Regions from separate parts of the Homo sapiens genome. Here all the other regions are linked to region 3. The links come from fine-mapping of genetic effects on gene expression. A gene starts in region 3. Each other region holds a variant in brackets. All regions are shown on one strand. Distances are between the middles of the regions.

The links. PIP is the estimated chance that this variant, and not a neighbour inherited with it, causes the effect.
Region 1: its variant is fine-mapped to the expression of ADAM28 in whole blood (TOPMed, PIP above 0.99).
Region 2: its variant is fine-mapped to the expression of ADAM28 in whole blood (TOPMed, PIP above 0.99).

Annotation. Positions count from the first base shown.
Region 1 is chr8:24,355,859-24,364,177 of GRCh38, reverse strand. ADAM28 (ADAM metallopeptidase domain 28) reads right to left here. Exons shown (of 23, transcript NM_014265.6): 23 at 5,164-8,319. All of the region lies in intron 3 of ADAM7-AS1 (ADAM7, ADAMDEC1 and ADAM28 antisense RNA 1), which reads left to right. Among named protein-coding and RNA genes, the nearest start is that of ADAMDEC1, 24 kb to the left of the region's middle. The variant A/G (reference allele first, on the strand shown) is at 4,440.
Region 2 is chr8:24,345,349-24,353,621 of GRCh38, reverse strand. It overlaps ADAM28 (ADAM metallopeptidase domain 28), which reads right to left. Exons shown (of 23, transcript NM_014265.6): 19 at 3,650-3,758; 20 at 2,312-2,390; 21 at 1,570-1,635. All of the region lies in intron 3 of ADAM7-AS1 (ADAM7, ADAMDEC1 and ADAM28 antisense RNA 1), which reads left to right. Among named protein-coding and RNA genes, the nearest start is that of ADAMDEC1, 35 kb to the left of the region's middle. The variant C/G (reference allele first, on the strand shown) is at 3,736.
Region 3 is chr8:24,289,497-24,297,819 of GRCh38, reverse strand. It overlaps ADAM28 (ADAM metallopeptidase domain 28), which reads right to left and starts at 3,751. Exons shown (of 23, transcript NM_014265.6): 1 at 3,625-3,751. The coding sequence starts at 3,670. ADAM7-AS1 (ADAM7, ADAMDEC1 and ADAM28 antisense RNA 1) reads left to right here. Exons shown (of 6, transcript NR_125808.1): 5 at 1,570-1,666; 6 at 1,763-2,006.

The DNA.
Region 1 (8,319 bases), 66 kb before region 3:
GCACTCCAGCCTGGGCAACAAGAATAAAATTCTGTCTCAACAAGAACAAAAAAATCCTGTTTGAATATTGGCAAGTCATACATTTTTAATTTCATTTTATAGATGAGTAAATGTACAGATTGTATACTTAAGACTGGTAAAATCAAAGAATTGAAATTATTTGCATAAGGCTAAAGAGCTAGTTTTTGGCAGAGCCAGGAGGACTATCTATACTTTGTTTTCTGTGTGTGGCTTACCATCCTGCACCAAAAACTGACTTTTCTCTTATTCTCTTGTCTTTATATTTCTGCTACATTTTCGTTCCCTTATTTCCTATCTGAGACTGCAGCTTTCCAGTGGATCTACTCAGCCCTGCCATGGGCACAAAAGAACTGAGAGAGTTTTGCCAGGAACTGGCTCCTGCAGGCTCCATTTCAATTATACTTACAACATGTCTCAAGAGACCCACGAATCTCAGAGCTATTCCACAGCAGTTAGAGAGATCAAGGCCAATTTGGCAACACATGTTGATTTACAAGGGAACAGTGTTATCTGCTGAGACATAGCACTTGGCCTGTGCATTGGAGTCTTCTCTATGAGAAATGGAGCAACTTTTGCGGTCCAGCAGTTGATACCTGCTTTCTCAAAAGCTACTGGGACATCAGGAGGGGACCGTTATCTCTAGTCATAGCATCATCATTTCATTTTTCATTTAGATAATTTTCTGAACTTCCTTAAATTGTTGTTCCCATCAGGATTGCACAGCTAAGATTTCAACATTGAGCCATTGTCTGTGCTTGGTCAACTAAGCTTAGAAAGAAACAATGGATGTGGTTCTCATGAAGAAGAGAATAGCAATAACTGATTTAAATGAGGTTCTAAAATACTAGGAATAAAGTATGTATCATTATCCATTTTAAAATAGGTTTGCCATCAAAAAAAATTGTAAATTAAAATGTATAAAGTGGAGAAAAACAATGTTAATTTGAATGATGACATGGAGCAACAGAAATTATCTCCAGCCCTCTCAAATAGAAAATAAATATATTAAAAGATGATTAGGTTATTTAGCCTTAAAAATAAATGAAATGCTGATACGTGCTACAATATGGATGAAACTTGAAGACATGGTGCAAAGTGAAATAAGTCAGACACATAGATGGAAAAATACTGTATAATTCCATTGATAGGAGCTACCTAGAATAGGCAAATTCAGAGACAGAAAGTGGAGTAGAGGTTACCAGAGATTGAGGGGAAAACATAACGGGGATTTATTGTTTAATGGATATAGAGTTTCTGTTTGGAATGACGAATGGGTCCTGGAAATAGATGGTGGTGGTGGTTGCACAGCACAATGAATGTACTTATGTCACCAAATTGTATTCTTAAGACTGGTTAAAATGGTAAATTCAATGTCATATATATTTTACCACAATAAAACATAATATTTGAGTTAAAACAAAGGATTTTAGGTAGCTGAAGGACTCGACATGAGGACTGGAGAACCAAACTTGGTAGCTATGCAATGAGGAATTCCAGCCTGTATCGTGGAGCTGAATAATACAGAATGTCTGTCTCACCCTTGCCAGTCACTCAGCTGACACTGCTGATACTCCTTGCACTAGACCAGCCTTGAACCAGCAATTGGCACTAGTCTCAAGACTTCCTGAGGAACTCAACCTTATTATAACAGTGTGCATCACCAAAGATAATTCTCTGTAATTTCTGCTTTATATTACATACTTCTGATTCAAAGTTCTGGGAGGGTACATCTGAAAGGTAGATCCTTGGCCATAACTATGTCATAGGTGCAAAAGAGGGTTGGCCAGGCACTGTAGCTCAAGCCTGGAATCCCAGTACTTTGGAAATCCAAGGCAGGCAGATCACTTGAACCCAGGAGTTCAAGACCAGCCTGGGCAACATGGCAAGACCCCTTCTCTACAATAAATACAAAAATTAGAGTGTGGTGGTGCATGCCTATGGTTCCAGCTACTTTGGAGGCTGAGGTAGGAGGATTGCTTGAGCCTGGGAGGTTGAAATCACAGTGAGCCAAGATCATGCCACTGCACTCCAACCTGGTGCAAGAGAGGAGAGCAAGACCCTGTCTCCAGGAAAAAATAAAAAGAATCTGGTAACAACATGCAGAATATTTCCAGTTGCCACTGCAAATAGCAAAGGAGCTATATCTCCAAGATGTGCAATGTGGGAATCCTCTAAGCAAGGAAAGGTGTTAAGATAGGCAGGTATTAAGAATGAGAATGCCTATGTGGAAACAGTTTCATAAATTGCTAATGGAAATTTAAATTCATACATATTCCTACTAGAGAAAAATTTTTGCAAAGTGTAGCAAAAAAGTTGGAAAACTTTTAGGGGGCTAGCCAACATATAGAGTACTATCCAAAGGAAATAAGAAGTAATAAACGTTGGGTGTTGTGGATCACATGTGTAATCCCAGTGACTTGGAAGGCTGAGTCAAGAGGATTGTTGAGTCTAGGACTTGGAGACCAGTCTGAGCAATGCAATGAAACCCAGACTCAAAGAAAAAATAGGCCTTGTTTTGGGCTGCACAGGTCGCCATTAAGCACAGAAGAACTTATCCCCCAATTGTTGGCTGTGCTACCTGCAGACAGCCATCAACTTGCCTTGGAAAATGCTTTCACTAAATAAAGTCATCTTGCCCAAGGTCACAGCTCTTTTGAGAGCAATTTGTACCTGGAAAATGCTTTCACTAAATAAAGTCATCTTGCCCAAGGTCACAGCTCTTTTGAGAGCAATTTGTACCTGTGACTAGTTGACATGAGGGAGTAAAAGCTTTTCCCTTTTGCCTCAACTTGGCTTCATTCTGAAGGATAGCCCAGGTTCAGGGCTGGCTGGGCCAGCTAAAGCCTTCTTTGAGGCAGCATCATTCCCAACTCCTCCAGCCTAATCCTGCTTTCTCCCATTCCATTAAACAAATAGGGGACCTGACCTGAAAGCCCTCCATAATAAACTTCCTGGCTGCTAAAATCCATCTCAGATTCTGCTTGCCCAGGAACCCGAACTGTGATACAGAGAACTGCCTTTAGATGGTATATACACCATTGTTCATCACTGCATTATTTTAGCCATAAACATTTTTGAAAAAAGATTTCATTGTTGAATCAGATATTAAGTAAAACATTATTCATTAATAAAATAGTATTGATGGCTGCATAATATTCTTATAGATTTGTGTCATATTACTAAGTAAAATTAAAAGCCATAATACAAATAGCATAAATATTGAATTAATACTTAACTTATATACCAGACAGAAAAGAGAGGAAAAGGTCATATTTCCAAGTGTTGATTGAAATCATACTTGGTGAGATTAGGAAAAATTTTTGTCTTAGTACTTTCTCTTGTTTCTCAACCTTTCTATATTAAGCATATATTGTTTTTTAAATTTTTTAAAAATTATACTTTCAGTTCTGGGATACATGTGCAGAATGTGAAGGTTTGTTACTATAGGTATACATGTGCCATGGTGGTTGGCTGCACCCACCCACCCATCATCTACATTAGGTATTTCTCATAATGCTATCCCTCCCCTACTCCCCCACCCCGCAACAGGCCCCGGTATGTGATGTTCCTCTCCCTGGGTCCGTGTGTTCTCATTGTTCAACTCCCACTTATAAGTGAGAACATGTGGTGTTTGGTTTTCTGTTCCTCTGTTAGTTTGCTGACAATGATGGTTTTCATGTCCCTGCATAGGACGTGAACTCATCCTTTTTTATGGCTGTGTGGTATTTCATGGTGTATATGTGCCAAATTTTCTTTATCTAGTGTATCATTCATGGGCACTTGGGTTGGTTCTAAGTCTTTGCTTTGTGAACAGTATCACAATAAACATACGTGTGCATATGTCTTTATAGTAGAATGATTTACAATCCTTTGGGTATAAACCCAGTAATGGGATTGCTTGGTCAAATGGTATTTCTGGTTCTAGAACCTTAATGAATTGCCATATTGTCTTTCACAATGGTTGAACTAATTTACACTCCCAACAGTGTAAAAGTGTTCCTGTTTCTCCACATCCTCTCCAGCATCTGTTGTTTTCCTGACTTTTTAAGGATCACCATTCTAACTGGCATGAGATTGTATCTCATCGTGGTTTTAATTTGCGTTTCTCAAATGACCAGTGATGATGAGCTTTTTTTCATAGTTTGTTGGCTGCATAAATATCTTTTTTTGAAAAGTGTCTGTTCATATCCTTCACCTACTTTTTGATGGGGGATTTTTTTTTTCTTGTAAATTTAAGTTCTTTGTAGATTCTGGATATTAGCCCTTTGTCAGATGGATAGATTGCAAAAATTGTCTCCCATTTTGTAGGTTGCCTGTTCACTCTGATAGTTTCTTTTGCTGTGCAGAAGCTCTTTAGTTTAATTAGATCCCATTTGTCAATGTTGGCGTCTGTTGCCATTGCTTTTGGTGTTTTAGTC[A/G]TGAAGTCTTTGCCCATGCCTATGTCCTGAATGGTATTGCCTAGGTTTACTTCTGGAGTTATGGTTTTAGGTCTTACGTCTGAGTCTTTGATCCATCTTGAGTTAATTTTTGTATAAGGTGTAAGGAAAGGGTCCAGTTTCAGTTTTCTGCATATGGCTAGCCAGTTTTCCCAACACCATTTATTAAATAGGGAATCCTTTACACATTGCTTGTTTTTGTCAGGTTTGTCAAAGATCAGATGGTTGGAGATGTCTGGTGTTACTTCTGAGGCCTCTGTTCTGTTCCATTGGTTTGTCTCTCTGTTTTGGTACCAGTACCATGCTGCTTTGGTTACTGTAGCCTTGTAGTATTGTTTGAAGTCAGGTAGTGTGATGCCTCCAGCTTTGTTCTTTTTGCTTTTTTTTTTTTTTTTTGGGTGGAGTCAGTCTTGCTCTGTCACCCAGGCTAGAGTGCGGTGGTACGATCTTGGCTCACTGAAACCTCTGTGCCCTGGGTTCAAGTGATTCTCCTGCCTCAGCCTCCTGAGAGCTGGGATTACAGGTGCCCGCCATCCTGCCTGGCTAATTTTTGTATTATTGGTAGAGATGAGGTTTCATCAACTTGGCCAGGCTGGTCTCGAACTCCTGACCCTCGTGATCCACCCACCTCAGCCTCCCAAAGTGCTGGGATTATAGGCATCAGCCACTGTGCCTGACCAAGCATACATCTTTTTACAGAAGAAAATTAAATAAGTATTTTATATTTGTGATTTGTCCAGATTTTAAAATAACATTGTCAAACTATTTAAAGTAACAAATAGTTTTAACTTTGTGTGAGGTGGGAGCAACATAAACGACTTAGTCATCTTAGTCATTTAATATTGAGATGTCAGATATATCCCAAGAGTATGGACTTTAATATGAGGTGAAGGAGATAAACCGTTTAATGTTCACAAGAAGTTGCCTTCACAATAAATTGTATACCGTAATTTTCATGCTTAGGATTTTTTTTATAACAATAGTATTCGCTTAGCATACTACTAACAGTAATAGTGATACTGTATTAAGTGTTGGGCATTGTAGCAGACCACCCAGGCCTAGTTGCTAAAAAGTGCCTAACATTGTCAAGGGAAAGCCTTTTTATGGAAGCAGCAAAAGAGACAAAGTGAATTCAAGGGCAGATGTGCCAACGTGGCTACAGATTTTGTTAGAGGTGTTTTCTCCTGAGTTGGGATCTTCCCTGACAAGGTGGAGCTCAGTATCTCCACACAGCTGTGCCACTCTTGGCTTGGCCCACTTTGGAGAAAAAAAATTGAGGAGAAAAGAATATGCAAGACTTGCTTATCACCCCAACCATTTCCATATTTTTCCATATTACATCCAGATGCTAGTGTATGCAAATTATTTAGCTTACGCTCAAGAGATGGATTCTTTGAACAATGACATATGATGAAACAATATTAAAGCTGATAATAATATTGGATGCACCAACTGAAAAATAGCAATATAACACTTAGGAAATAATGGTGTCTTTGAATGATGGGGAACATACTAGTCAAGTGGCTGAGAAAGCATGTACTTCTGAAAAATATTTACTGTGGGAAGCAGTAATAAAGTTTATACACATTTTGCTTTAATTTTTAAAATATCTGGAAATATAAGTTAAAAACAGTTAATTGGTTAGCCTTTATAAAATTAAACTGATAGGAAAGAAGAGAATGTTATTAAGTAAACAAGAGAAACAACTATATAAGTAAACAAGAGAAACAACTATAAATTTTGAAATTAGTGAACAGGAGGACTGACAGTACAGAATATAAAAACCAGTAATTTGGAAGATAAATTTAAGGAGTTATCCAAAATTACCAAGGAAACACAAAGTGAGAAAGAATATGATAAATGAGAATACTGGCTATCAGAGATTTCAAGCAAATCCTCGGTGCTAGTAAAGAAGGGAGAACAAATGGAAGAGACTAGAGACACAAAGAAAGGAAAAAAAGTTTTGCAGTGATGAAAGCCTATTAAATATAGTTAATTTTACCTAAACCTATCTGGAGCATTTAAAACATTATATGGTTTGGCTCTGTGTCCATCCCCCCAAATCTCATTTTTTTAATTGCTATAATCTCCACATGTTGAGGGAGGGACCAGGTGGGAGGTGATTGGATCATGGGGGTGGTTTCCCCCATGCTTTTGTCGAGATAGTAAGCTCTCAAGAGATCTGATGGTTTTATAAGTGTTTGACAGTTCCTCCTTCATACACATCTTCCATCATATGAGATGTTTCTGCTTCCTCTTTCATCATGATTGTAAGTTTCCTGAGGCCTCCTAGGCCATGTGGAAATCTGAGTCAATTAATCCTCCTTTCTTTATAAATTACCCAGTCTCAGGTGGTATTCTTTATAGCCATGTGAAAACAGACTAATAGAAAATGTTTGTTCTCTACTTCCTTGTATCAGCTATCTATTGCTGCATAACAAATATCTCCAAACCATAACAACTTTAAACAACACATATTAATTATCATACAGTTTCTGTGGGTGTGTAATCTGGACAAAATTTAGCTGCATCCTCTACTTCAGGGTGTCTCACAAGGCTGAAGTCAAGATTCAGCTGGGAAGGAATCTAAAATTCCAAGCTTATTCAGTGGTTATTGGTAGACTTCACTTCATTTGAGGGTCGTTGAACTCAGGGGCTCATTTTCTTAATGGCTGCTAGCCAGAGGCCACCTTCAATTCCTTAACACATAGCAGTGATTTCCAATGTGAATAATAAAATCCTAATTATAATAATAACCCTTTCCATATTCTCTGACTGCAACCAACTAAAATTTGCTTTCTTTTCATGCATACTTCATTATTTTATAAAAAGCTAAAAGCCTTCCCAAAGGCCATATAAAACCAGTAATTTGGTGAGTTGTAATAAGTAGACAAACACTAAGGTATCTTAGAGTAACTGGATAAAAACATAATTTAACCTAATAATTTCACTGTTTTAAAGTAGACAAGGTAAAAATAACTAATGATGAAAACAGGTTTGGTGGCATATCTGAGGTAGTTAAATGTCAAATAAGCGGAATTCCCTTAAAGTTAGAAAGTTACGGATATAAGTAAGTGTGGAAACAGTATTGTGAAATCAAAAAGTCTGTTCTAAACTATTCTGCAGTTGAGCTGAAAGGGAAACATTGTAGGACTTGGGTTCGCAGTTCTATGATAAAATAATGGTTTTCCTGTCATTGTACTGCATTTCTTCTCTTCAAATAGGACGTATGATGCATCTGCATCAGGGACCTAGTGACATCATTTAGGAACTTGCAGGCATGTTCACATGCCACTGCTTTTGAGAGTGTATGGTTTAGTTTTTGCTTGGGTTATGGTACATGGCTAGTTGAGGATTCATAGATTTAAGATTTCCATTCCATCAGTATAAAAAAGGATTAGGTGAATCTATTACTGGGGACAGATATTTAAAAAACAACAACAACAACACAGAAAAGTTCACAAGTTGGTCACGAGTACATAATGGCTTTCCAGGAAATAGGGATTTATTTCTGGGTCAGGGGAGGGTCTTCTGAAACCTCACAGGGCAGATAAAGCTCTACTTTTAAAGTTGTTCTTCTGCAAATGCCACATGGAGAAAAAGCCTGTATCCTTGACAGTGATTTGATCAGTGGACTCTGGATTTCCTGAGGACTGAGCTTCACTTTTGAGGCCAGAGTGGGCTTATCTAGAACCTCATACTGCAAGGGTAAATGAACCATAAAGTTCCTCATGAAGCGACAGGCCTGTGGGGACCAGGTAAGTGATTGATAGAAATGGGTGAAGCAGACAAATACAAGAAAAACTGTAGCTGTGATGATGAACTAAAGCATGTTCCCTGATTATGGAAACAGCTACTTTAC
Region 2 (8,273 bases), 56 kb before region 3:
AACTACTCAACCAATGAATATTCGTCCTACTTTAACCACTCCAAGCCCGTTGACTTTCTCCTCACCATATTTTTCCTGTCAGTGTCACTCGTCTTGGGCGATACTACAAATAACAGTTGAAGAATTAAGTGCTCCATTTTTATATGACTTGTTTTTTCTCACTAAAAATGTGAAATTTCTTGAAAGAAAAAAATCTCAAATGTAGGTCTTTCTCATTTACCCACAGCAGAATACCAGGCACAAGAAAAATGCTCAGGAGCCATTTAATGAGTGAATGTACTGTAATTCTTACTTCATGAGCACCTGACTCTTATTCCAGGTTTGCTTATATATGGCCCATTTTTCATACCCTACCTCCTACAGAAAACTATGACTAATATACATAAAGTAAAATATCACCTAATAAAATTTTATCTCCTTAAATAAACATCTAGAAATGAATCTTTGAGACCTCACAGAGCAGAGCTATTTATCGTTTCTCAATAATTGCATAACAGCAATACTATTTTTTATAATAAAACATCAATATCCATACTAATTTATAGACAGGAAGTTTTAGATATCCCTGGGACAAATGTGCTGTGATATTTCAAGTTAACCTCAAAAGTACACATCCTGATAACCGATGGATGTGGAGACAGTATTTGCAATGAGCAGGTGAGAGATTAAAAATTCACCAATGACTATCTGATACTTACAAGCAAAGAAGATGATATAGGTGCAGGAATTGGCGGTGGTGGAAAATCTGGCTTTGTAATTAGCTAGTAAAAGGATAAAACATTTACATTCAAAGATAGGGTCCTGAAAATAGGCGTGCATAAAGAAAAGACTTAAATCATTTTCAGAAATGGAGAAGCCATGACCCCACCCATGAGAATATTGTAAAATATGAGTTTGATTGCTTTCATTTAGTTGTACATACACAGTTGAGACCTAAGTCCAATGTCAATAGGTATCTGATAAAGATGATTGCTATAAACTGTATGTTTGTGTCACCCCACAATTTCATATGTTGAAACCCTAATCCCCAGAATGATGGTATTTGGAGGTGGGGCCTTTTGGAAATAATGAGGTCGTGAGGGTGCAGCTCTCATGATAGGATTAATGCCATTATAAGAAGAAGCACAAGAGAGATGCTCTCCCTCTGCTATGTGAGGATACAATAAAAAGGCAGCTGTCTACAAGCCAGAAGGCCGCTTCACCAGACACTGGATCTGCCAGCTCCTTGAACTTGGACTTCCCAGTCTCCAGAATGTGAGAAGTAAATATCTGTTGTTTAAGCCACTCAATCTATGTTAATTTAGTTACAGCAGCCTGAGCTGATGAAAACAGTGGTACTCTATTAAGCAGATTAGTCCTCTTCTTGTCACAAGTTGGCATGGAGTGACATACATGTTCATTTTTTTATATTTTCAAAATATTTTGCAGAAGAATTTGTATTTTATATTAATATTCACATAGATTTCAATATTGTCCTGAAGAAATAATGAAGTGTTGTGGGCTATGACTTTCACCGATATTTCCTGGAGATTGAACTAGGGTGGTATTTAAGAGAAGTTGCTAACTCACAAAAGAGGCTGGGGGCTCATTGCCTTCTACTGGCAGATCATACACATGGGGCTTCATCTGACTCATCTGAAAAGAAGAACGAATATTTCAAAATGAACCATTAGTTTCATAAGCACAGTTTTTAAGTAATTTTTAAGTAAGCACTTTTCAAGGCATGGAAGCTTGGAACTAAGCTGACACCAAGAGACCAGATAGAAAATCACAGTGGTCCTGCTGGCGTATTCCATAGAAGTATTTCCCAGAGCTGTAATGAAAAGTTTTCATCAAAAAATGATTACCAATGTTATAAATGATTACCAATGTTATTAACCAACTTCAGCTAAAATCTTTAAATTTACAGGACATGAGTAGGACATTTGGGTTATAAATATTACATGTATTATCATACAGACATACATATTTTTGTATCTATTTTGTCAATTTGCAAAGAAATAAGCTAGAGGGAGTGTGTGTGTGTGAGAGAGGGAGAGAGAATGAAGCAGAGACAAAGAGAGAGACAGACAGACATCCGGTATGTGCATTCTTTGTTCTCTTTATTCTGTTTGCATTTCATGAACCCCGGCAAAGTAGCCTCGGCATTTTAGGGACTCTTTTGCCTTTAACAAAAGGCAAAGGAGACATTTCTGAATGTGTTACTGCAAAACGCTGCTGGGTAGAAATGATAGATAGGTAGTCAGGATAAGAGTGTGAGAGAAACGCAAAGTGGGGCCATGGTAATCACAGCCCAGACTATATAGTTCACCTCTTGGGGTTGAACAGCCTTTACCATCTGGGGTTTCCTCTTCTGTTTGTGTGGCCTGGTGCCAGTGGTAGATAGTGGCCTGTAAGAGAGAAACACATGATATCAATTGACTTAGCAGCTCCTTCAGCATGACAGGGAAACTCCGTAGAAGATTCCCAACTTCTTTTTCCCATTGTGTCTTTCTTGCCTATTGCCTGGGTTTTTATCTGCTCCCTGGGTCAGTTTTTACTTCCCCGTCAGCCTCTTTCATTGCCTTGTAATTCATAATCACTACTAGTTTTCTTTTTTCTCCAAAAACCCCTGACTTCTAAAAATGATAGTGTTGAATCCAAATTTTATCTAAATTATGTTGTTTTATTAATGTCTTACTCAATATTAAAAAACTCATCATGAGTAAATAAGTCTTTCTTTAAAAGTGCTAAAAAAAAAAAAAAAAAAAAAAAAAACACCGTTGTGCCAGAATCACGTTCGTGAGACAAACCCAGCCTCCACCACTTACTCTGCAAGACTGAAAGCATGTTTGCTAATAATCTCTCTGAGCTTGTTTCTATATCCATCAAAATGTGAAGTTCCTAACCTTGCAAAATTGTGTAAGGGTTAGCATAAAACATTTCTCATCTGTAAAATGAAACTCATGACCACTTTATGAAGTTCTTGTGAAGTGTAAATAAGATAATAGATATAAAAGGGCTTAGCACACGGCCGGGTGTGGAGACTCACACCTGTAATCCCGGCACTTAGGGAAGCCAAAGTGGGTGGATCATTTGAGGTCAGGAGTTTGAGACCAGGTTGGCCAACATGGTGAAACCCCATCTCTACTAAAAATACAAAAATAACCCGGTGTGGTGGTATGTGCATGTAATCCCAGATACTCGGGGCTGAGGTAGGAGAAGTACTTGAAACTGGGAGGTGTGGAGGTTGCAGTGAGCCGAGATCGCAGCATCGCACTCCAGCCTGGGCCACAGAGGGAGACTCTTGTCTCAAAAAAAAGTGGGTGGGGCGGTGCTTAGCACAGTGCTCATCGTATATTGATCAAATAATGTTAGATATTATATTCTTACAACAAATTCAAAAAATCTGTCATAATGAGAGTTAATATCACTCTTATTATTATAACTACGGTGACTAACAGAAGGAAAAACAAAAAACATTTCTAGATGTGAAGGATTTCTCAGTTAAAGGGAAACCCAGTTTCTCGTCCAAAAAGACCATCTGCATGTATTTCTGAATATTAGAAGTAAACCAATTCAATTTGAAAGGATAGGTTATACATTGAATTTAAAGTAAAGTAAAATAGGGGTCAAAGAGTCCCTACAGCAAGATAAGATAAAGGATCACCTCTGATCTTTCTTCTGCTTTTCTCTGGAGCTCTGGTGCCGGATTACCATAGCAACCACCACAAAAATGACCGCCATTGGGAACAG[C/G]ACCCCAACCACAATGGAGAAGTCTGCAGCAGAGAACAGGGGCCCGCTGAGGACTGCAGAAACACACATCTGCACAACACACTAGTCCTTGTTTCTTTACTTAGCACATATTCCAGCTACCCTTTTCTCCAATGAACATAAATTCCCATAGCCAGTAAAATGAAAAAGTATTTTGATCAGGATAATTATATTAATATTAGGTAGAATAAATACACATGAAATCTATAGGAAACATTTAACATGAAATAAGTTAAAAATCATAATATTGAGAATACTTAGATAATGTTTGTAACAACTGGGAAATGAGCTGGGAGATTAGAAGAGAATATACAGTAAGGAAGATGGCAAAGAAGAAATGAAACATTTTTGAAAAGCAGTCTTGGAATAAAACAGAGAAAAAGAAACTAAAACTTTGAAAATACATTCCTGTCATTAGTGAATAAGAAGCTGAGGTGTGACTAAGAAGACAAATAATCGAGTGTTCCACTGATGTTGGTCTACACTGGAATTAGACAGGAAGTTATGTGACCTTGAGAATGAGGAAATGGTTTGAACAAATATTCCTGGGCCTCCATGGTGTTTTTTCTTGTACTGACAAATTTAAATAATGAATATAACTTCACTCTTTTGCTCTTAACTGTTCATTTCTCTTACAATAATCTGAAACCACAAGAGACCAGGAAGGAAAAGATTGAAAAGCAATGCCAAAAGTTACCGTTCTCTTATTACAGAAATCAGCAAACCAATAGCATGATTAATATTTGTATAAATGCAAGAAAAGTTCACAAGTGTGAGCACACACACACATGCAGATAGAGGTAGACACATCAGAAGCAGAATTCTAGGTAAGACAATGACTTTAGTTCAAATATTCGCTACTCGCCACCCTCCATAAGATTCCAATCCAAAAAGTCAAAGGAAAATAAAACAGTGAAGCATTCTGTTATAGTGTAGATACATTCAGAATGAAAAACATACACTTACTTGCACTAATATCAGAACTGTAACTATTTTCAGAAGAATGACATATTATCAGAGAAATAAATGGGAATTTGGCAGTACTTCACAAACACACCAAACTTGAAAAGACATGGTCTGGAGCTAAAATTGGGGCACAGGACAGATGGAAGTATAACAACGGAAGGTTTGCAGGTGAAGATAGAAATCACTGAAGAGTAAGTGCAGCCTCTTCTTGTTTCTGGTAATGGTGGACTAGGAAATTGAGATCAACCTGCCCATTAAAAATAATCTTTTAATCTTTAAATTTTTTGCAAACAAGCAAACAAAAGCATCCTAAAAGTATAAAAGTACTTAAATGTTAGATAAAATTACTTTGTAGAGATTAGTGAGTGGGCAAGGACCTGGAGAGACAGAAAATAATCCTAGATAAAAGTTCAGAAATGCAGAAAGAAATGAAAGGCAAATGAACCAACAGCAAACCCTAATGTAAACTGTGGGCTTGGGGTGATAATGATGTGTTAATGTAGGTTTATGGAGTATTTGTTACCATCAACGAATACTCCACGAGAATGGGGGATGTTGATGGTGAGGGAAGCTGTTCAGGAGTGGGAGTTGCTGGGTATATGTCAACTGTCTGTTCTTTCTCTTCAATTTCGCTGTGAACCCAAAACTGCTCTACAAAAGAAAGTAAGTTAAGTTTATTTTTTTAAAAAAGCAAATGAATTGGGAAGTTTTAGGGTAATCATTAAAATATAAAAGAAATGCATAACATCCAAGTTAATAAAATAATAAAATCAATAAGTCTATAAGAAAGTAAGAAAGGAGAGAAAAGGGAACATAAACAGGAAAGACAAATAGAAACTATATAATTGTGGATTTATACCCAAGTACATCAGTAATTACATTTAATTTAAACGGACTAAGTTCCTCAGTTAAAGAAACAAACAAAAACCAAAGATGTGAGTACTACTAAAAACTATATGTGCATGCTTTCTTTAATAAAAGAAAAAAAGACTTAAAACGTGATTCAGAAAGGATAAAAATGAAAATATGGAAAAATGTTATTTCAGGGCAAATACAGACCAAAACAAATACGTTACAGCTATATGGTCTCCAGGAAGTGTATATTCTCAAAGGTAAGAAGTGTACTAGATAGACACAGCACCATTTCATCATGATACACTGTTCATTAATTTGGAAGAAGCAACACTCTAAACTTGTATGTATATAATAATACGCTCTCAAAGTATAAAAGTATTGATAGAGCCAGAAGTAGTAATCAAATTCACAATTACAGTGGGGGGTATTTTAACACTCCCAGCACAGTAATTGGTAGAACAAATAAACAATGTTAGGCTTAATTTATATATCAGACAATTAATAAACTTGATAAACAAAATATCTGGAGAATACTACAGAACACGTATATGAAAAAATCACAGTCCAATATCACCCATGAATATAAAATAGCCAAAAAATACAAATTCTTCCGGAGAATATAAATGAATACTCTCCAATACACTTTATGCGACTAGCATAACCTTGATACCAAAATTCAGCAATTTTTTCAATATGAAAAAATCACAGTCCAATATCACCCAAGAGTATAAAATAAGAGTAAACATCCTTCACTATATAAAAAAGATATTATTTCTAACTTAGGTTTATTCAAAGGTTGCAAAGTTAGATAAATGTTCACAAACCAATTGACTTATTTGACAGTACTAATAGAGTAAAGGGGAAAACATTTTAATAAATAAGGAAGTATTTGACAGAATTCTTAGAAACTTGAAAGAGAACTAGTGGACCTTAATCCAATCACTAGAATGGATGATCTTGAAAGCATAAGGTAGAGAAAAAGAAGAAAATGAGCATAGAAAAATTTCATACATACAAACTTTAAAGACTCTTGGTGATAATGATGTGTCCGGGTATGTTCATGGATGTAACAAATGTATGTCTCTGGTGACAGTGTTGATAGTGAGGGAAGCTGTGTTTCCTGTGTTTAAAAACTTTATACACATGGAATTATATAACCAAAAGCTGCTGTTTAAGGATGTGTATTTAGGAAGCAAAACTACAAAGAAAACTAACAAAATGATTATGACAAAAGAAAGATTAATGGTCAACCCTTAGAGAAAGAGGGGAGATCAGACTGAAAAGAGGCAGGAAAGCAGATGTCTGGGTCTATTTCTTGGCCCTTATTATATTACATGAGCGTTCATTTTGTAATCATCAGGTTTGCCTTTATATTTACATGTCTGCTCTATTATGTTACACACAAAAAGATGGTGTTAACAATAATCTTGAAAGCCAATGGCTGTGTATGGCCATGTCGTAGGGCAGTGCTCTTAAACTTTGTCATGCTGCAAATCATTTTGGCAATCTGATAAAGCCTATAAACCCCTTTTCTGAGTGTTTCTAAATTCATTCATAAAAGGCATAAGATTTAAAGGAAGCTATTGATGTTGGGATACAGTTGTGAAAATATTATAAAACAATTTATGATATAGTAAAATATGTGTTTATTAACCTCTGAAATAATCAGTTCTAACAGTAGGTCAGTAATTACCAAAATTTCAAACAAATGATACTCATGGGGTATTTGGAGATACATTCAACAACTGCAATGAGATATTAAAGTCTTTGTAATTTCTATTGGTGACAAAGTCATGGAATATTGCTAATACTATTATGGTTTATAAGCCATACATTCCCATAATTGTAGAAAATTCTAAACTAACTTTAGAATTTAATGAAAATAAAAATGTAATTTTTTCCCATTCAAGTTTAGATTTAGGACCATAGCTATAGTAAAAATTGTCATCCTCTAGGGTCTGTCCTCTTGGTGCAAGGACACTTCTGAACTAGGAAATGTTCCTCAGTCTGTCTGAGGCTTTCCTTGATGGTTAGATAAGAAATAGCACTGAAAGGGCACTGAACCCACTAACACAATGCCCTAAAAAAAACAAGGCTTGGGGGATAAAGTTGAATTCTGATGTAGTGGTTTCAACAAACAGAATAAGTTGAGAAAAGCTTCCACTGTATGTATTTTGAACTTCTCCAGCTACCTCCTTATCCTGCTAAAATACAAATTTCATGTAATATACCGTAAAGTTGTATCGCTAGTCCTCCAAGTTAAAAATTTTGAGAAATACTTTTAACAGTGCTTATCAGAATTAATTCAACCTTATTGGATGATAACTAAAGAAAAAGCATCGGTTGAATCAAAAGATTAGGTATAAAATAACACATAGAAGTAGAAGTATACATAAAATGTATACTCTCAGAAAAGGAGTATAAAGAATCAAATTTAGGGTACTCTCAATGCAATTAAAATATAGACTGTAAAAAAGCTAGACAGATGTGAAACAGGAGAAAACAACCAACTGGGATAAAAAAATATTTCAAAGACACATAAAAATGCCACTGAATAATTTTAAATGTCATTATAAGTAATAAGAGAATTAACATTGCTAAAAAATGTATATTATGATACAGAGAATAATCTTGAAAAACTTCCCCAGAATTAACAAGAAAAATGACCCAATATGGAATATAATATGGAGATCACACAG
Region 3 (8,323 bases):
GAGTTAAAATTTTTCTAATTATTGTAATTATTTTGAAACACTAAGATGCCAAGAGGTAAGAAAATTACTCCTGCCAGAAATTAACTGATGATATTGACACAATTCCCTGCTGCCTCCTTAATTCAGGGACACAAAACAAGCATACCATAAGGCACCCACGTGCTGCCTGGTACATTACAGTAGCTAATCAATGCAATTAGTCTTGTTAAGATAGAGAGTTCAAGAAGCCAAATTTCACCAATGTTGCAGCCAACATAAATCTTTTTAAATGCTATATTAGAACACACATGATTCTAACAGGAAATAGTAGTCCAAGCTGCCTTCGTGGAATAAAATAATAGCTACGTTCCCGATTTTTTGTATAAAAGCAGAAAATGAAGTGAGTTTCCTTCTCAGCACCATTCAGAAATGGTAAGAAGGAAAACAGGCTCATCTAGCCAACACAAATTTTCTCTCACATGCACCCTGACCTCTATGCTTCTAGTTAGTATCTGAATCCCAATGTTTCATGAAATTAGAAATTGCAAACTGGCTCTTAAATATGGGCTTAAAATATGTAAGTTATGTAATTTATTTCCAACTTTTTGGTGGCCGAACACTTCCAAATGGAAACCAAAAACAAAGCAAAATAAAACAAACAACAACAACAACAAAAAAAAACCCACAACATTTCTTTTAGAAATCATTGGCAACCTCTCAATCTCTTCAGTTTGAAGTGAATGGAATTCCAGCTCCTTCCAAACTCCTGTCACTCCATATATTCTCTAAAGAAACTAAATGGAATTTCTCTTAAAGGCTCTTATTTTCTGGAAACCTAGAAGTCCCTGAAATAATGGGATCTGGAATACAACAAATTACACAGCCATTGTAGGGATGTAACAGACCTAAATATTGTTTAGCTCATCCATCCTTAAGTTTAATGGAAATGGTGCAGCGTCTTCCCCACTGAATAACATCACGTTAATTATTTTTGAAGCCTGAGGAACAAACACAACTAACTGCCATCCAGGGATTACACAAATCCAAGGTGTAACACAATATGTTTTTACTAATTCATTTTAATACTTGCCTTCTCTCTCCCACAGAACTCACACACTGGATTAGTCTTGACTAGCAAAACCAGATCAGGAAAAAGAAAACTGTTATTTTGGTTTAGATGGGATAATTATTTTTGACTGTTTTGAGTCTTAGAAAAGCCAAAGCTCATTAACAACGTTAATATGAGAGACATTAGTCTGGATTGCTACATTATTTGTTCATGTGTTTGGGGTCATTTTGGAAATGGGAACATGAGTATGTAATATTGACATTTTCATTTTCGTTCAAATGTGTTTGAAACTGTTCAAAGAAATGTCTTCTTTCCAAACTGAACACATCATATTAAACGCTGAATTAGGGTTTACACAAGGATATTGACTTATGTCCTGGGATTCTCTGCATCTCCTCAAACCATCTTGTGGTTTTAAACTTCATGCATTAAAAGTGAGTACAAACAAAAGGGAAAAAACTGCATTTCTATTAGGTCTGTTATTTTGACTATTTAGATTAAACTGTATATTTTCTTTTCAGTCTTCCAGTTACCTTATAAAGGCAAGGAAGAACTGGTAGTTTGAAATAAAATAATTTCAAAAAGTGCTGTACCCCCTGAGTATTCTGCTGTAATAAGGTAAGCACCTTTCTCCTTTGTTGATGCAATCATTTACATCTTCACCCCGCAAACACCTGTCACATCCTTTTAAATATTTGTTTTTCCTTTTCCTAGGATGAAATCCCATAAGTCAATTTTTTCTCGGGATTGTGAAGTTCACTGCACACAACCAGCCTTATTTTACATCTCTTTCTTTTATTTCAACCATCTGGGGACTGGGCAGAAGTCATGGTCAGAGGGGCACATATGTATTGCTTTGATGATGGGGGCAGAGAACAAACAGGAAGAACTGGGAAATGAAAATTGCTTTACTTCTTATATTCTGACTAGAAAGGCAACCCAAATGGGAATCATAACAGGGATAGTTCAGTGGCAAAAAGACACCCTTAAAAATAGAAGCTAGAAGTTAAAGGAGGGGTGACATCACACTTTTAGAGTTGACATCAGAGGAAGTTGCATCTCTTGGTGCCATGTTATACATGCACCGTCGGGGCAGCAGAACTGATTAGTGTGCCCAGTTGCACAAAAGGACTGTAATGTGCATGGGCCCCAGTGTTAGCCATGTGACTCTGTTAATGGATCCAGCTTGATCTTTACGCTCTTCAACTAAGCTAGTGCCCAAGCAGTTCTTGTATTTCAGCTTAGAGGGGGTTCTGGAAAAGCTCTTGGTGATAGCATTTTTGGAGAACGGAGAGAAAAAAACATTTCTATTAAGTCTGCCTCAAAAAGTAGGAATTTCAGGTCAATGTTAAATGCCTGGCATGAGTTTTATATATATTTTTAATATTTCAGGCTTATTTTACCAAAAGAAAGCTGGTGTAACACGTTCACATCAGACAAAATAGGTATCAAAGCAAAAGGCATTAGAGATGAAGAGGATCACAGCACAGTGGGAAAAGGTTCAGTTCAGATATAGGTACATATTATATAAAGCAAAAATACACAGAAACAAAAGGAAAATAATTCGATATTTAAAGATATTAGGTTAAGTGAAATTTTTATAAGTCTTGAAAACAAATCAGAAACAGGTGAGACACAGGAAAATCATTTTTAGCAACAAAGTACTAAGAGGGTGCATGGACAAGGAAAACTTTTCCCTCCCTAAGCCCATACCTCTAGTTGATAATCTGTTCCCATCCCCAGGTCCCAGCAAACATTCTAAGACCCAAGAACAGGTTTACTGGGAGGAATTCGAGGCACTGCAGTTCATGTGCTGAGTTAAATAAGCTCTGGAAATAGAAGCTGAAGAATCACAATACCCAATCTAATTTAACCAAAGTCTAATTAGAGAATTTACCAGAAATTGAGAGACTTGCTAGACATAATTTCCTGTTAGGAAGTAGTATTTTTCTCCTTTCAAATTTTTAAATGTTTGGTATAATCAGCAAAATAGAAGTAAATTATCAATTTAAGCTTAACAGAGATATTTTGTTAAGTAATATCACAGTACCTTATAAATAAAAAATATTAATTATTTCCAGTTAGTCACACGTATTATTACTAATAATGAGTAAATACAAAAATATACACTCAAACAGAAAGAGCCAAACTGGCTCCCATAATAATAGTAGGTATTTTCCTAAGCCTTGTACACAGTAATAAATAAATAAATCTGCCACATCTTTACCATTCTTTAAATGACAAGCTGGGTTTTGATGAATTCCACTTTTTCAGTCAAAAATCATATTCATGATTTAAATTGTGCTGTATGAAATTGTCCCTTTTATTTCTGTATATTCTCAGATGAGATGCATACATATTGGTTCAAGACCTCTTGTTGCCTCTTTTTAACATTGTCTTTGTATCACTCGCAGCCCCCAAACAACAGGTTAAAACCAGCCCAACTGGTTAGTAAGATTGATTGAGAAAAAAGAAAAAGAAAAAAGTCAAAATAGTTTATACAATAAAACTATTAGGAGACTATGAAAAGTTCGCTAATGCATTCAATAGAACCTGAAAAAGAGCTAAATATGTACCTGCAACAGAGAGGAGGAGACTGACTGGCAGGAGACCTTGCAACATGCTGGGTGATTCCAGGAGCACGGTGTCTGCTCTTCTCGCTCAGGTGGGTGCTGCTGGGTCTGTCCCTGCCTCCTCTCCAGTGAGACAGAATGAAACTCCCTGGTTCATTCTTGTCTCTGATTCAGGAAGTGTTTACTAAAGGTGTTGCGCAACCTCGAAGCTGTGGTCCTGCAACAATGGCCCAGCAGGCGGAAGTCCTGGCTGCCTCCTGGCTCTAAGATTACTTGATCTGAACTATTGTTTTGCTCTCCTTTGCCATACTCCCCACTCCAAAGTAGTACATTTCCAACATATTACTATAGCCAGATAAGCTACAAGGAAAGAGGCAACTGCATTAATGAGTCTTGAAAAACATGCTAGACATTTATTTACATTACGGATATGATATATAAATATATGTTTAAATATATTTTTATATATATACAGTTGTAGGAAAAAAGTTATTAAGAATGTTATTTTTCCCCCACATACATAATGTGGTTATGTAAAGCAATTTCTAATTCAACCTAATTACTATATAGCATTCTCTTTTCCATTATTTTATGTTCTATTCCTCACACAAGTGTACTCTCAGGAAGTTTGAACTATCCTGAAATAAGAATGTCTGACAATATAAGCACAATAATTTTTAGATCCTTGGGGGTATTTGTGTCATAACTGGCAATGAGGAGTGTGGAAGAAGGATTCAAGACCCAAAGGATACAATTTTAGGATCTGTCACTGGTGGTAGTAAGGCTAAACTGGGCATGTCTAAAAATCATACTTATAACCAATAAAATAACTAATATCAACTGAGCTGCTTATTAAGTTTTAGGTACTGATAGGGTTTGGTTGTGTCCCTACCTGAATCTCATCTTGAATTGTAGCTCCCATAATCCCCATGTGTTGTGGGAGGGACCCAGTGGGAGATAATTGAATCAAGGGGCGGGCTTTTCCCATGCTGTTCTCATTATAGTGAATAAGTCTCATAAGATCTAATGATTTTATAAAGGGCAGTTCCCCTGCTCAGGCTCTCTTTGCCTGCCTCCATGTAAGATGTGTCTTTGCTCCTCCTTCACCTTCTACCATGAGAGTGAGGCCTCCCCAGCCATGTGAAACTGTGAGGCCATGAAACCTCTTTTTAATTTACCCAGTCTCAGATATTTCTTCGTGATAGTATGAAAATGGACTAATACAGGTACTCTCCTAAATCTACTGTACTTGTTATTTTATTAGTCTTTATGATACTCATGTATTATGCATTTACAATCATTTTGCAGGTGAAAATTTGGGGTTTTAAAGGCAAAATTCAAAAGATTAAGAATCAGTTGTCCCCTCATTGTATAGATTAAGAAGATTAAGCAGATAAAGTCACCTATCCAGTAAGTGGTAGAAGTGGAATCTGAACTATGTGTTGTCTGGGCTCTTAGTCATATACTCTAATGCTTTCCCTTGGCTTAGCTGACTTGTACTCCCAGTATCATTTCTATTGAAAAGATTCTGGGAGAATAGAAATAATTATGAAATTCCTAAGGAATAGAAATTACGCTGAGGACCAGTTATTACCACAAAACCTAGTCCTAGTCCACTAAAATCATGCATCATTTTACAGATTCTGAAACACATTCTCATACTAGAGGGATTACAGTGATTATTGATGTCTCCAAATGATTATACAGTCATCAACTAAAACCACAAAGGAATTTTTGAGTCTAGTTACTGAGCATTTTAACCATCAGGATTGCGATTCACAGATTTCTTGCCTTTTCAACCCAAGTTCCATTGCTTTGTCTTTTCCAGGGAACAGAAAGGATACTTCAACTTTTAATTATTACATATTTTTTCTCCATTAATTCAACGTAATTTTACTTACAGCTATTATGTGTCAGACACTGAGATTGCAGTTGAAAAAACACAATCATGGCCGGGAGTGGTGGCTCATGTCTGTAATCCCAGCACTTTGGGAGGCTGAGGCAGACAGACTACCTGAGATCAGAATTTGAGACCAGCCTGCCCAACATGGTGAAACCCCATCTCTACTAAAAAAAAAAAATTAGCTGGGTGTGGTGGTGGTCACCTGTAATCCCAGTTACTCAGGAGGCTGAGGTAGGAGAACTGCTTGATTGCTTGAACCCAGGAGGCAGAGGCTGCAGCGAGCTGAGATTGCAACAACACACTCCAGCCTGGGCAACAGAGCGAGACAGTGTCTCAAACAAACAAACAAACAAAAAACACAATCACTTTCATTGAGATGTTCACAATCTGACAAAGATAAGTTCAATTACCATAAAATTGCACAGAGTGAGTACCACCTATAAATGATCACAATATCACAAGGTGTTTAGTGTTACAATAGATTTATCAATAGAAGTCAGAGGTCTACACCAAACAGGGCAGGGAGTGCATCCTGGTGGCAGGAGTCCTGGGAAAAGGACTCCCTATTTCATAAATGGTGCTGGGATAGCTGGCTAGCCATATGCAGAAGAATAAAACTGGACCCCTACCTTACACCATATACAAAAATTAACTCAAGATGGATTAAAGATTTAAATGTAAGACCTCAAATTATGGAAAACCTAGAAAATGACATTCTGGACATTGGCCCTAGGAAACAATTTATAACTTAAGTCCTCAAAAGCAATTGCAATGAAAACAAAAATGGATGAGTGGGACCTAATTAAATTAAAGAGCTTCTGTAGAGCAAAAAGAAACTATCAGCAGAGCAAACCAACAACCTACATAACGGGTGAAAATATGAGCAAACTACACAGCTGACAAAAGTCTAATATCCAGAATCTATAAAGAACTTAAACAATTGAACAAGCATGAGATAAGTAACCTCATTTAAAAATGGGCAAAAGGGTGGGTGCAGTGGCTCATGCCTGTAATCCTAGCACTCTGGGAGGCCAAGGTGGGCAGATCACCTGAAGTCAAGAGTTCGAGACTAGTCTAGCCAACATAGTGAAACCCCATCTCTATTAAAAATACAAAAATTAGCCACGTGTGGTAGGCACCTGTAGTCCCAGCTACTTGGGAGGCTGAGGCAGGAGAATCACTTGAACCCGGAGGAGGAGGTTGCAGTGAACCAAGACTGCGCCACTGCACTCCAGCCTGGGTGACAGAGCAAGACTCCGTCTCAAAAAAAAAGAAAAAAAAAAAAAAAAAGGGTCAAAAGAAATGAACAGACACTTCTCAAAAGAAGAAATACAAGCAGTTAAAAAAACATGTGAAAAAATTGCCCAACATAACTAATTATCAGAGAAATGCAAATCAAAACAATGAGGTACCAACTCACACCAGCCAAAATGGCTATTACTAAAAAGTCAAAAAATAACAAATGCTGGTGAGGCCACAGAGAAAAGGAAACACACAATGTTGGTAGGAATGTAAATTAGTTCAGCCACTCTGGAAAGCAGTTTGGAGATTTCTCAAAGAAATTAAAACAGAACTGTCATTTGACCGAACAATCCGTTTACTGGATATATAGCCAAAAGAAAATAAATTATTCTACCGAGAAGACACATGCTTATGTTCATCACAGTACTATCCACAAGAGCAATGACATGGAATCAAGCTAGGTGCCCATCAGTGGTGGAATGGATAAATACAATGTGGTACATATATACCTTGGAATACTATGCAGCTATAAAAAAGAATTAAATTGTGTTCTTTGCAGCACATGGATCACCTAGAGGCCATTAACCTAAGTGAATTAATGCAGAAACAGAAAACCGGTACCTTACACCATATACAAAAATTAACTCAAGATGGATTAAAGATTTAAATGTCAGACCTCAAACTATGGAAAACCTAGGAAATGACATTCTGGACATTGGCCCTGGAAACAATTTATGACTTAAGTCCTCAAAAGCAATTGCAATGAAAACAAAAATGGACAAGTGGGACCTAATTAAATTAAAGAGCTTCTGTACAGCAAAAAGAAACTATCAGCAGAGCAAACCAACAACCTACATAACGGGCGAAAATATAAGCAAACTGCACAGCTGACAAAAGTCTAATATCCAAAATCTATAAATACTGCATGTTCTCAATTATACATGGGAGCTAAACGCTGTGTACCCATGGACATAAAGATGACAACAATAGACACTGGGTACTGCTGGAGAAGGGAGGGAAGAGGGGAAAAGGCTGAAAACCTAGCTATTGGATACTATGCTGAGTACCCGGGTGGCAGGATTATTTGTACCCTAAACCTCAGCATCACGGAATATATCCATGTAACAGATGGATATGTACCTCCTTGAATCTAAAATAAAAGTTGGAAAAAAAGAATTATGAGAATAAATAAGGACAATATATTATAGCACATTAGTTTATGGCTGGTAGTGTTTGGAATTGTTGGAGCAAAGAATGCCTGAGAGAATGGGAAGATATCCTGCTAAGTATTTGTGCTTGACTTTGACGCTGTGGTGAATGGTCACCACTGATGGGATCGAATGAGAAGTATAACCTTCCTGCTTGCTTCTTGAGGAGGGGAGTGCCCTGGAAATGGTGAATGATGACAGTCTGCATGCTGATCCATGTGGAATTTTAAATTGGCACTTGTTCTTCGGCTCTTTTCAATTCTCTTGTAGTCGTGACATGCCTTTGATCAGTTTGTTCCAGTTATCATTCTCATAATTTTTCATCATTCTTCATAGCCCAGAGTTATAA